Linked DNA regions of Homo sapiens. The protein of the gene in region 1 interacts with the protein of each later gene in a pairwise test. Each region holds a gene or a part of one and is shown in the gene's direction. Other genes may lie near its edges.

Region 1 (5,227 bases):
AATTGTTTGGAAATGTAGAAAATATTTTTTAATGTTTTAATCACATTTTCAATACCATTTAATTTTGTAGTTATATAATTTTAATATTTTGTTATATTTGGTGTTTTTAATAATAGGTTTCAGAAGATGATTTCTCTAAATTACAGTTGAAGGAAAGTATGATTCCTATTACTAGGTCACTTCAGAAGTAAGTATTCTTTACTAATATGGATACAAATCCATCTTAGCCATTTCTTTGACATATGTAAAGTTACAGGGTAGAAGTAAGTAGTTTTAAGAGTAGCACTACTAGGCATATTTAAGCTTCTTGGAGCACACTGTTTACACTAAAAAACATTGTTTTCTTTTAAACTTGTGCTTTTTCCTATTCAAAGTGTTCTAAGGACCTAATGAGATAGCCTTAGACCTCTAAAATATAATGGATATGACTCATTTTTGAGTAGTAATAGCAACAATTTATGATAGTATTTTTGTGAGTATCCTATAACAGTAACTTGTATGAAATGTGTTTTCATATATTCTCTCTAGAATAAATTTAATAATAAATGGATCGTGATTTGGAACATCATTACAGAAATCTAAAGTAGATATAATGACCTGGATATAAAGATAGGTCTAATTTTCTTAGTTACAGTGTCTTAAATAATAAAATGGAGAAAAATACAAGTTGTTTCTATAGTCATGATATTGACAGAAGAGAAGGGTATTTATTTTGGAGTTTGTTGTGTGACTATGAAGTGTCCTCAGAAGATGGAATACTGAACTTAGGAAATACTGAGATTAAAAGTTTCTACTCTAGTCACACCATTTCACTTGGCTACCTTTTGTACTTTGAGAATTTGCTTAGGCTTCTGTGATCTAAGGAACTGGTGGAAAATAAAACACTAGACATGTAAACTTACGAATCTAATTGTCACAAATGTGTATATAGTTTTCATAGTTAAAATGTATCATGTATGATTACTTTTTTCTCTCTACTTAATTTATTATCTTTAGGGTATAAATAATGCACCTTTGTTTGTAGCTTGCCATAGTACTGGGGTATAATGTTTCATACCTAATAGAATTCAGTGAATAATGATAGTAATAGCTAACATTGAATGTTTACCAAATTTCAGTATTCTAAGTGCTATTGAATATAATTCATGTGATCTTCACAACCTTATGAAGTAAGTACTATTATTATTTTCATAATACAGATCGGAGAATAGGCATGGAGTAGTAAAGTAACTTGCCATAGCTAGTAAAAGAAGCGGGATTCAGATCAGGTAGTGTGATTTGAAAGTCTGTATTTTTAACACTACTCTCACTAATGATAGTGATGAATTATTCATTGAGACTAAGAACAGGGCCTCAGTTGATCATCTAGTATGAAGACTTCATTCTGCTTTAAAATTTGAGGTGAATGACCATAAGTTTTCCATTGCTCTTTAAAGCATTATACTGCACTTGTCACAGACCTATATGTGTTTTCTGAGTTAATGTACATATCCTAGATGTTTTTCCTGGTGAAAACTAACAGTGGATTGTAAGTCATTTAATCACCACAAAAATCGATACTGATCTATAAGTGCTTTTACCATTTGCTAGAATTTTTTTAATAGTAACTTTTTTTCTACTATAAGCAATCAATAGTCTTACCTGTATATGGAGTTTCATTTTTAGAGAGAGTAAGTTTTATGTTTTGTTAGATGGCCTTTAGTTATTAATTCTGTTGTATTAACTGGAGCAGTCTTAATTTGTCTTTACATTTCTAAAGTATTATCAGTAAGACGTTTGTACTGTAATGAAGTAAGCTTAGACTTACAAAAGTTATTTTCAGTCTGTAGATTAACTGTTTTAAGGACAATTTAAATTTAATTACATCTCAGAATTCCTTTTTCCAGGCGGCAAAATATTCTGGTTAGGTATATGGTCATCTTTTCATACTTCAAATATTTCAAATGTATTTCAAAATTTACAAAATATTTCCAAAATATTTCAAAAGTTACTGATTATACTTTGTAGGCTTTATTGGCCTTTCCTAAGGTAAAATCCTATTATGGCTCTTTACATTCCTCAAATAACAGTTTTTGTTTTTAATAATTTGGATGGCTATCCAGTTTTAAGATATATTTCATTAGCCATAGGGAACTGTAAGCTAGTAGTCTGGCCTTGTCTAGTCCCTTAAATACTCAGTTTTCTTATATTCTTCAATTAGAAATATGTGTTCTCTAGGAAGACTCATTGGAGCTGGGATTACAGGTGCATGCCACCATGCCCGGCTAATTTTTGTATTTTTAGTAGAGATGGGGTTTCGCCATGTTGGCCAGGCTTGTCTCAAACTCCTGACCTCAGGTGATCCACCTGCCTCGGCCTTCCAAAGTGCTGGGATTACAGGCACGTGCCACCATGCCTGGCTAATTTTTGTATTTTTAGTAGAGACGGGGTTTTGCCATGTTGGCCAGGCTGGTCTTGAACTCCTGACCTCAGGTGATCCACCCACCTCGGCCTCCCAAAGTGCTGGATTACAGTACTGGCCACCACGCCCAGCTGAATATTTTAAAATTTTAGTTATTTTACCTCTGATTGGTTAGTAACTTTGGGTGAATTATTGTCACTTAGTCAATGAAGGTGGGAATCTCAGAAATTAACTGAAGTTGCCAAAAAAGGTGAGAGAATTGAGAGTCTTCTTATTACATTTGAGTAAAAGTATCCAAGAAGTGTATAGTACAGGGAAATAGATATACATGCAGTAAATAATGCTACTAGTTTCCTTCCATCTCCTTGTCCTGGGTAAAGTGGAAGATGCAGTTTATTATACATTTATTGAACAACTACTGTGTGTTAGAGACTATAGAATAGAGTGTTGTAGTCATTACCTTTCTGCTCACCATAAATGGAAATTACTAACATTGGAGGTTATTACACAGCTTATGTTTTTTTTTTAAATTTAATTTTGTTTTTTTGAGATAGAGTTTCGCTTTTGTTGCCCAGGCTGGAGGCTGGAGTGCAGTGGCGCGATCATGGGTCACTGCAGTCTCCACCTCCTGGCAAGCGATTCTCCTGCCTCAGCCTCCTGAGTAGCTGGGATGACAGATGCCAGTCACCACGCCTGGCTAATTTTCTGTTGTATTTTTAATAAAGATGGGGTTTCACCATGTTGGCCGGGCTGGTCTCGAACTCCTGACCTCAGGTGGTCATATCATCAGGTGATATGCCCATCCCAGTCTCCCAAAGTGCATGGATTACAGGCGTGAGCCACTGCTTCCGGCCCTTCCTGCACATCTTAATTACTATATTGTCACTCTGTTTTTCCTTAATATCCTTCTTATTTATTAAAGATCTGAAATATGACTAATTGATGTTTTCTGAGTGGTCCTCCAGGAACTGAAATATAGGGGAGAGAAAAACTGGAAAAATATAAATTAGAGAAGGCTTGGAAAGTTAAGGGCCTCTTTTCCTGGTTTGAGGAATGATTGAGTTTTCTCCACTGAGACCTGCAATACAATCTTGGCATTATTTCAGAGAAAAATCTAGGTTGTTGGTATAACAACACATTATATAGACTTATTGGAGTAGTTGGCAGCTTCCCCTATGATCAATAAAAATGAGTTTTGTTCAGATCTGTAACTAATCCTTAAATGCTATTTAAAAAATAGCTATCTTGAATGTAAATGTTAAAAATAATTTCTGTATTTTACTTCTTAACTAATATACACAGGATACCAAAAGCAAAGGTGTCATTTCACAGAGCTGTAGTGAAAATTACTTGAAAAAAGTGTTCTTGTTAAGTGTGATACAACTGATACCTATTGTTTCTTGTTAGGGCACTTGGCAGACTATCTTAAAAAAAGTTAATGTCAAAAAATATAATTTTTAAAGTAAATGTTTATAGAACTTTAGATAAATTATTTTAACCCTCAATTATTCAGATCTCAAGGTTTTATAAGGAATAAGTCTCAAAGTTTATATAAATTTACTTCTCATACCAATTTTGAAGTTAATAGTCAACTTTATTTATTTTTTTGCTGTCTGCATTGGCTATTCAGTTCTTAATAACTGGTTTATAATGTGTTTTATACTTTTTAATGAAGGGCTTTGCACCATTTATCTCGCCTGAGAGACCTGGTTGATGATACGAATGGAGAACGGTCACCGAAAATGTGAAGAGGAAAATGAAACTGTCACCACAATGAATAGTCACCACAGAACAAATAGGCATTTTTTCTATTACTTAAACTGACAAAGTAAATATAAGCCATACATTATTTTGTGGTTGGTTCAAGGATTATATATTTCTAAAACACTAAACTTGAAAATACCCATAGGTTTTGGGACCTATCTTTATTTTGTGCCAACATACTAGAATGTGAACTGCAAGGACCCACAATATATCCTGAAGTCTTACTTTCGCCTTCTGGCCAGCAAATGTCTAATATTTAAAGATGGATGACTTCTGTTCTTGAAGCTTACCTGGATTTAACCTTCTTCAGCATCCTCAACATTTTATTACCTGGTTCAGGATCATTAAGAAACTTACTGGTTTTTATCCAAAATCTTTTACGTTAAATAGACTTTTTTAAAGATATAGTTAGCATCACTTTTAAACAGCTTAAAGGAATATCAAAATTGTTATTGTGTATCTCATCTATAAGGAAGTCTGTTACTTTGAAATTTTCATAAATTTAATATTTAAGATACATTGTATTTGAAAATTGCATTAATAGTGGGGTGATACTGTGTTAAAAGGAATGTTGTGTTGTGACATTCAAGAGAACCTCCTCATTTAATTAGTACTTTGATTCTGTGTAAGATAATCTTGGTAGTGCTTGACAGTTTCCAAACCTTTTTTTGGAGAGATATTTAAGAATTTAATATTTTGATATTAGATTGTTTCCCAGATTTTAATTTTGGGGTTGGCTCAAACTAGTGAAAACTATGACTCAATGGCCAATTGCTTTATCAAATTTGATAACTAAAACTTAAAATGAATATGGAAAATCAGAAAGCAACTCTATTTTAGAGCTATTTTGTAAGAGTTGTGCTTTCTTTAACACCATCTGTAGTCTTAAGTTTGTCTCTAGCTAGAACTGAACAAAGCTCTATAATTTTTACCAAGCACTTATTATTAATACTTCTTATAAGTAGTAAGCATCTTTACTAACACAACTGAGAATTAAGTCATAAAACATAACTAATACAGCACATTACTGCCTGACAAAATTAAAGAGTACTGTGTGTATGT
Region 2 (5,227 bases), on another chromosome or scaffold:
TCTTTTTTTTTTCTTTTTTTCTTTTTTTTTTTTTTGAGACAGAGTCTTGCTCTGTCGCCCAGGCTGGAGTGAAGTGGCGTGATCTCGGCTCACCGCAAGCTCCGCCTACCGGCTTCACGCTGTTCTATTCTCCTCCCTCAGCCTTCTGAGTAGCTGGGACTACAGGCGCCCACCACCATACCCGGCTAATTTTTTGTATTTTTAGTAGAGACGGGGTTTCACTGTGTTAGCCAGGATGTTCTTAATCTCCTGACCTGGTGATCCACCTGCCTCGGCCTCCCAAAGGGCTGGGATTACAGGCGTGAGCCACTGTGCCCAGCCCCCTTTTTTTTTTTTTTTGAGATGTAGTCTTGCTCTGTCACCCAGACTGGAGTGCAGTGGCGCAATCTCGGCTCACTGCAAGCTCTGCCTCCCGGGTTCACGCCATTCTCCTGCCTCAGCCTCCCAAGTAGCTGGGACTACAGCTGCCCGCCACCACGCCCAGCTAATTTTTTGTATTTTTAGTAGACACGGGGTTTCACCGTGTTAACCAGGATGGTCTCGACCTCCTGACCTTGTGATCCGCCCGCCTCAGCTTCCCAAAGCGCTGGGATTACAGGCGTGAGTCACTGCACCCGGCCTTTTTGACTCATTTTTAACAAGCTACCTTTTATGGCAAATTATTAGGATGGCTCTTAGCTTTGAAGTTGCAGTTTACTGCTGAAAACATCACTCAGGGAACCTAGGCTGTGACTTGCAGGCTTTGCTTCTGTCCTACAACATTAGCTTTTCCAAATTACTCCAAGCTCGCCTTGTTCATCCTCCAGGACTCCTTTTCTCTCCAGAGACTGAGGTTTAGAAAGTGAGAACCAGACAAGGAAGAAACTTCTTTAGAACCAGAGGTTCATTTGTATGGAGCTGTAGATGTGGAAGCCTCCAGATTATAGACTGAGCTGCCAGGTGGCTGGGGAGTGTGTGTGCAACTGGAACACTCCTCTGACGCATCGTGGGTTCCGTTCCCCGACTCACTTCTCATTGCCTGGAAAGCATAGGAAAATTTCAGTTCCTGCCCTTGATAGGCAGTCCAGCAAAACTTACATATGACTTTGCTGCCTGAAATTCTTTCTGGAACAGGGCAAGGTATAAATAAATAAATAACATATCACTTTTTGGAATTTAAAGTGCTGTGTCCTTTGATAGCAACAGCAAAGCAAGAGAGGTTGACTGGACAGCCACTCCACACCTCGATGGCCGTTCCCAGTTCCCCTCTGTTGACTGCAGACAGGGTCAGTACCTCCTTCATCAGGAAAATGGAGACATCCAGTGTGAGCTCCTCAGAGCCCCTCCACCACTGCACAGTGACATTTACCTCTTAGTCTCCTGTGTCACTGGATGAGGCGTCCTTGCTGCTGGGCTTACCCTTCCACCTCTGCCCTTGTTCCCTTTCCTTCCTGTCTCCTGTCAGACTGCCTCATCGTTTATTGCCTTTCCTGTTTTCTGTGATTACTCCTTTTTATAGGCTCCTCTCTCTCAGCCTGTAAATATATGTGAGCCCCTCACATCCTAACATGAGTCTCCCTTGATCCTATGTCTTCTAAGTGTTTGCTGATCTTCCTGAGGTTTCTGTTCGGCACTGTTGCTGCTTTCTCTGTGCAACTCTACTCCTTTGGCCTCCATGGTGCCATTACTTTCCAGGTTCTTCTCCTCCCTCCCTCACTACCCTTTCCTCTCTCTCTCTCCCTCTCTCCCTCTCTCTCTCTCCCCTTTGTGGGTTTCTTAGTCTTCTACCCCACTCTAATTGTAGGTGATTCCTAGGGATCTACTCTTTTTTTTTTTTGAGAGTCTCGCTCTTTCGCCCAGGCTGGAGTGCAGTGGCACTATATCGGCTCAGTGCAAGCTCCACCTCCCGGGTTCACGCCATTCTCCTGCCTCAGCCTCCCGAGTAGCTGGGACTGCAGGCGCCTGCCACCACGCCCGGCTAATTTTTTGTATTTTTAGTAGAGACCAGGTTTCAACGTGTTAGCCAGGATTTCAACGTGTTAGCCAGGATGGTCTCGATCTTCTGACCTCATGATCTGCCCACCTCGGCCTCCCAAAGTGCTGGGATTACAGGCATGAGCCACTGTGCCCGGCTGGGATCTACTCTTATCCTGCAGTTCTTTTCGTTCTCTCTACTTACAGGGCTTCAAACATTACCTGAATGCTGATGACTCCCAAACCTACCTCTGGTTTATTCCTTTCTTCTGAGCTTCAGATTCTCCAGCTTCAGCTACCTGAGGGACATCTCTGCCTATATGTCTCTTAGCTGCCTCAAGTTTAATGTGTTCAAATCCAAACCCATCATCTTCCTTAGCCCTCTTTGTCTGCTGTTTTCTCTTGAGTAATCAGTAGCACCATTATCTACTCAGTAATCTTAGCTGGAAACCTGGGAGTCATCTTTATGACTGCTGCCTCTCTTTCACTCACCACATCGAATTAGTCTATATCTTTGCCTTTTTTAATTTTTCTACACATTTCCTGACTCTCCCTTTGTCTCCATCAAGACTTTAAGTCCTTTAAGATCTTGTAGTCCAGCCAGACACAGAACATGCTCTAGTTAGTGCTCAGTAAGCGTTTAATGAATAGGAGGGAAGGATCACCTAATTCTTCTCTTTTTTAAAAAGGTGGGCCGGGCGCGGTGGTTCACGCCTGTAATCCCAGCACTTTGGGAGGCCGAGCCTGGCGGGTCACCAGGTCAGGAGATCGAGACCATCCTGGCTAACACGGTGAAACCCTGTCTCTACTAAAAATACAAAAAATTAGCTGGGCGTGGTGGCAGGCACCTGTAGTCCTAGCTACTCCGGAGGCTGAGGCAGGAAAATGGCATGAACCCGGGAGGCGGAGCTTGCAGTGCGCCGAGATAGCACCACTGCACTCCGTCCTGGGTGAAAGAGCGAGATTCCGTCTCAAAAAAAAAAAAAAGGTGGGCCGGGCACAGTGGCTCACGCCTGTAATCCTGTAATCCCAGCACTTTGGGAGGCTGAGGCGGGTGGATCACAAGGTCAGGAGTTCGAGATCAGCCTGACCAATATGGAGAAACCCTGTGTCTACTAAAAATACAAAATTAGCTGGGCATGGTGGTGCATGCCTGTAATCCCAGCTACTCAGGAGGCTGAGGCAGGAGGATCTCTTGAACCCAGGAGGCAGAAGTTGCGGTGATCTGAGATCACGCCATTGCACTCCAGTCTGGGCAAAAAGAGCAAAACTCCATCTCAAAAAAAAAAAAAAAAAAAAAGGTGGATGTCAGCTGGGCCCAGTGGCTCACACTTGTAGTCCCAGCACTTTAGGCGGCTGAGGTGGGTGAATCATAGGAGGTCAGGAGTTCAAGACCAGCCTGGCCAATGTGGTGAAACCCCATCTCTACTAAAATACAAATATTAGCCAGATGTGGTGGCAGGCGCCTGTAATCCCAGCTACTCGGGAGGCTGAGGCAGGAAAATCACTTCAACCCAGGAGCGGAGGTTGCAGTAAGCCAAGATCGTGCCATTGTACTCCAGCCTGGGTGACAGAGTGAGACTTCATCTCAAAAAAAAAAAAAAAAGTGGATGTCGCCGGGTGTGGTGGCTCACACCTGTAATCCCAGCATTTTGAGAGGATGAGGCAGACAGATCACTTGAGGTCAGGAGTTTGAGATCAGGCTGGCCAACATGGTGAAACCCCGTGTCTACTAAAAATACAAAAATTAGCCGGGCGTGGTGGCACACACCTGTAGTCCCAGCTACTTGGGAGGCTGAGGTGGAAGAATCACTTGAACCCGGAAGGCAGAGGTTGCAGTGAGGTGACATCGAACCACTGCACTCTAGCCTGGGTGACAGAGTGAGACTCCAGCTCAAAAAAAAAAAAAAAAAAAAAGATGGATGTCCATGAGTGGTTAGAATTAGAAGAAATCTTAAATAAGGACATGATGTTGCTGTGGCATGGGGAGGCCACGTCAGTCTAGGGTTGGAAGCTAACTAACTTTCCTCCTACCTAGAGAGGTATGGAGAGAGGCTAGATGCTAGATGGGGCATTCAGCCAGTGGGGTCCACATGGTTGGCTTTTTTTTTTTTTGATAAGAGAACTGAATGACAGGATATTTCTGAAACTTTTGTGACATTTCTTGAAGTGATTAGGAACTTGACAGGGTATTTCTCAACTGGAGATGCTGTATTAATTAAAACATTGACTTCAGGACTTCAGGTAATGGAAAGTAATTCAGATCTGCTTTGCTTTTTTTTTTTTTTTTTTTTTTTTTTTAGGGAGGAGATGGAGTCTTGCTTTGTCACCCAGGCTGGAGTGCAGTGGCACAATCTCGGCTCACTGTAACCTGCGCTTCCTGGGTTCAAACGATTCTCCTGCCTCAGCCTCCCCGAGTAGCTGGGATTACAGGCACCCGCCACCACACCTGGCTAATTTTTGCATTTTTAGTAGAGACGAGGTATCACCATGTTGGTCAGGCTGGTCTCGAACTCCTGACCACAAGTGATCTGCCTGCCTTGGCCTCCCAAAGTGCTGGCCCAGATCTGCTTAAGCAAAAAAAAAAAAGCATTTATTGGAAAGATAAAGAAATATCCTACAGAACCCAGTGGCAGGAATGAGGTGAGGTCTCAGGAGCTAGAAACTTTAGTTCTTTTTTCCTCTCTCATCTCATCTGTCCTCTCTACATCTCCATTCTTATTTTATAGATTGCCGTTCTTTGGTCTTCATGGCAGGTACGCAGCCCCCACTGCTTGTGAGTGTATGTGACACAGGGCCAGCTACCTCAAGGAAGTGACTCTTAGTTGACTGACTGGCTCAGCTTGACTGCCTCTAATCTAACTGTAGCTAGTGTGGGGGTGGAGCACACAAAATCTTTGGTACAAATATAGCTGTTACGAATCCACTTCTGTGTCTCTGAGGACGGAAGAAGGCAAGTCCTGAGAAGGGGGCATATCATCATGAGCTGGTTAGATCCTTTAGAAGGTTTTTCCTAGAGATGTGACTAACTCCTCTAGAGATACCAACCACAGTCCATGGGGTCTGTAACAAAATGTAACACCTCTTTCTATACTGTTTATCCCTTCATTTTATGTGTACAGTAAGGGATACTGTTTATCCCTTCATTTCTGTAGGGCAGCACAGCTGGGTTTTTGTAGATGCTTTGTAATTACAATGATGAAACAGGCTGGGCATGGTGGCTCACGCCTGTAATCCCAGCACTTTGGGAGGCCAAAGCGGGCGGATCACTTGA

The links. Proteins that work in one complex are often made in the same cells at the same time.
Region 2: the proteins of C18orf54 (region 1) and GLE1 interact in binary tests that used the Homo sapiens proteins (3 or more experiments, as listed by UniProt).

The regions. Positions count from the first base shown.
Region 1 is NC_000018.10:54,374,098-54,379,324, forward strand, and holds part of C18orf54 (lung adenoma susceptibility protein 2), read left to right. Parts: intron 1-116; coding exon 117-187; intron 188-4,076; coding exon 4,077-4,149; 3' UTR 4,150-5,227. UniProt on the Homo sapiens protein: Might play a role in cell proliferation.
Region 2 is NC_000009.12:128,527,983-128,533,209, forward strand, and holds part of GLE1 (mRNA export factor GLE1), read left to right. Parts: intron 1-628; exon of another isoform or gene 629-1,018; intron 1,019-4,682; coding exon of another isoform or gene 4,683-4,709; intron 4,710-5,227. UniProt on the Homo sapiens protein: Required for the export of mRNAs containing poly(A) tails from the nucleus into the cytoplasm. May be involved in the terminal step of the mRNA transport through the nuclear pore complex (NPC).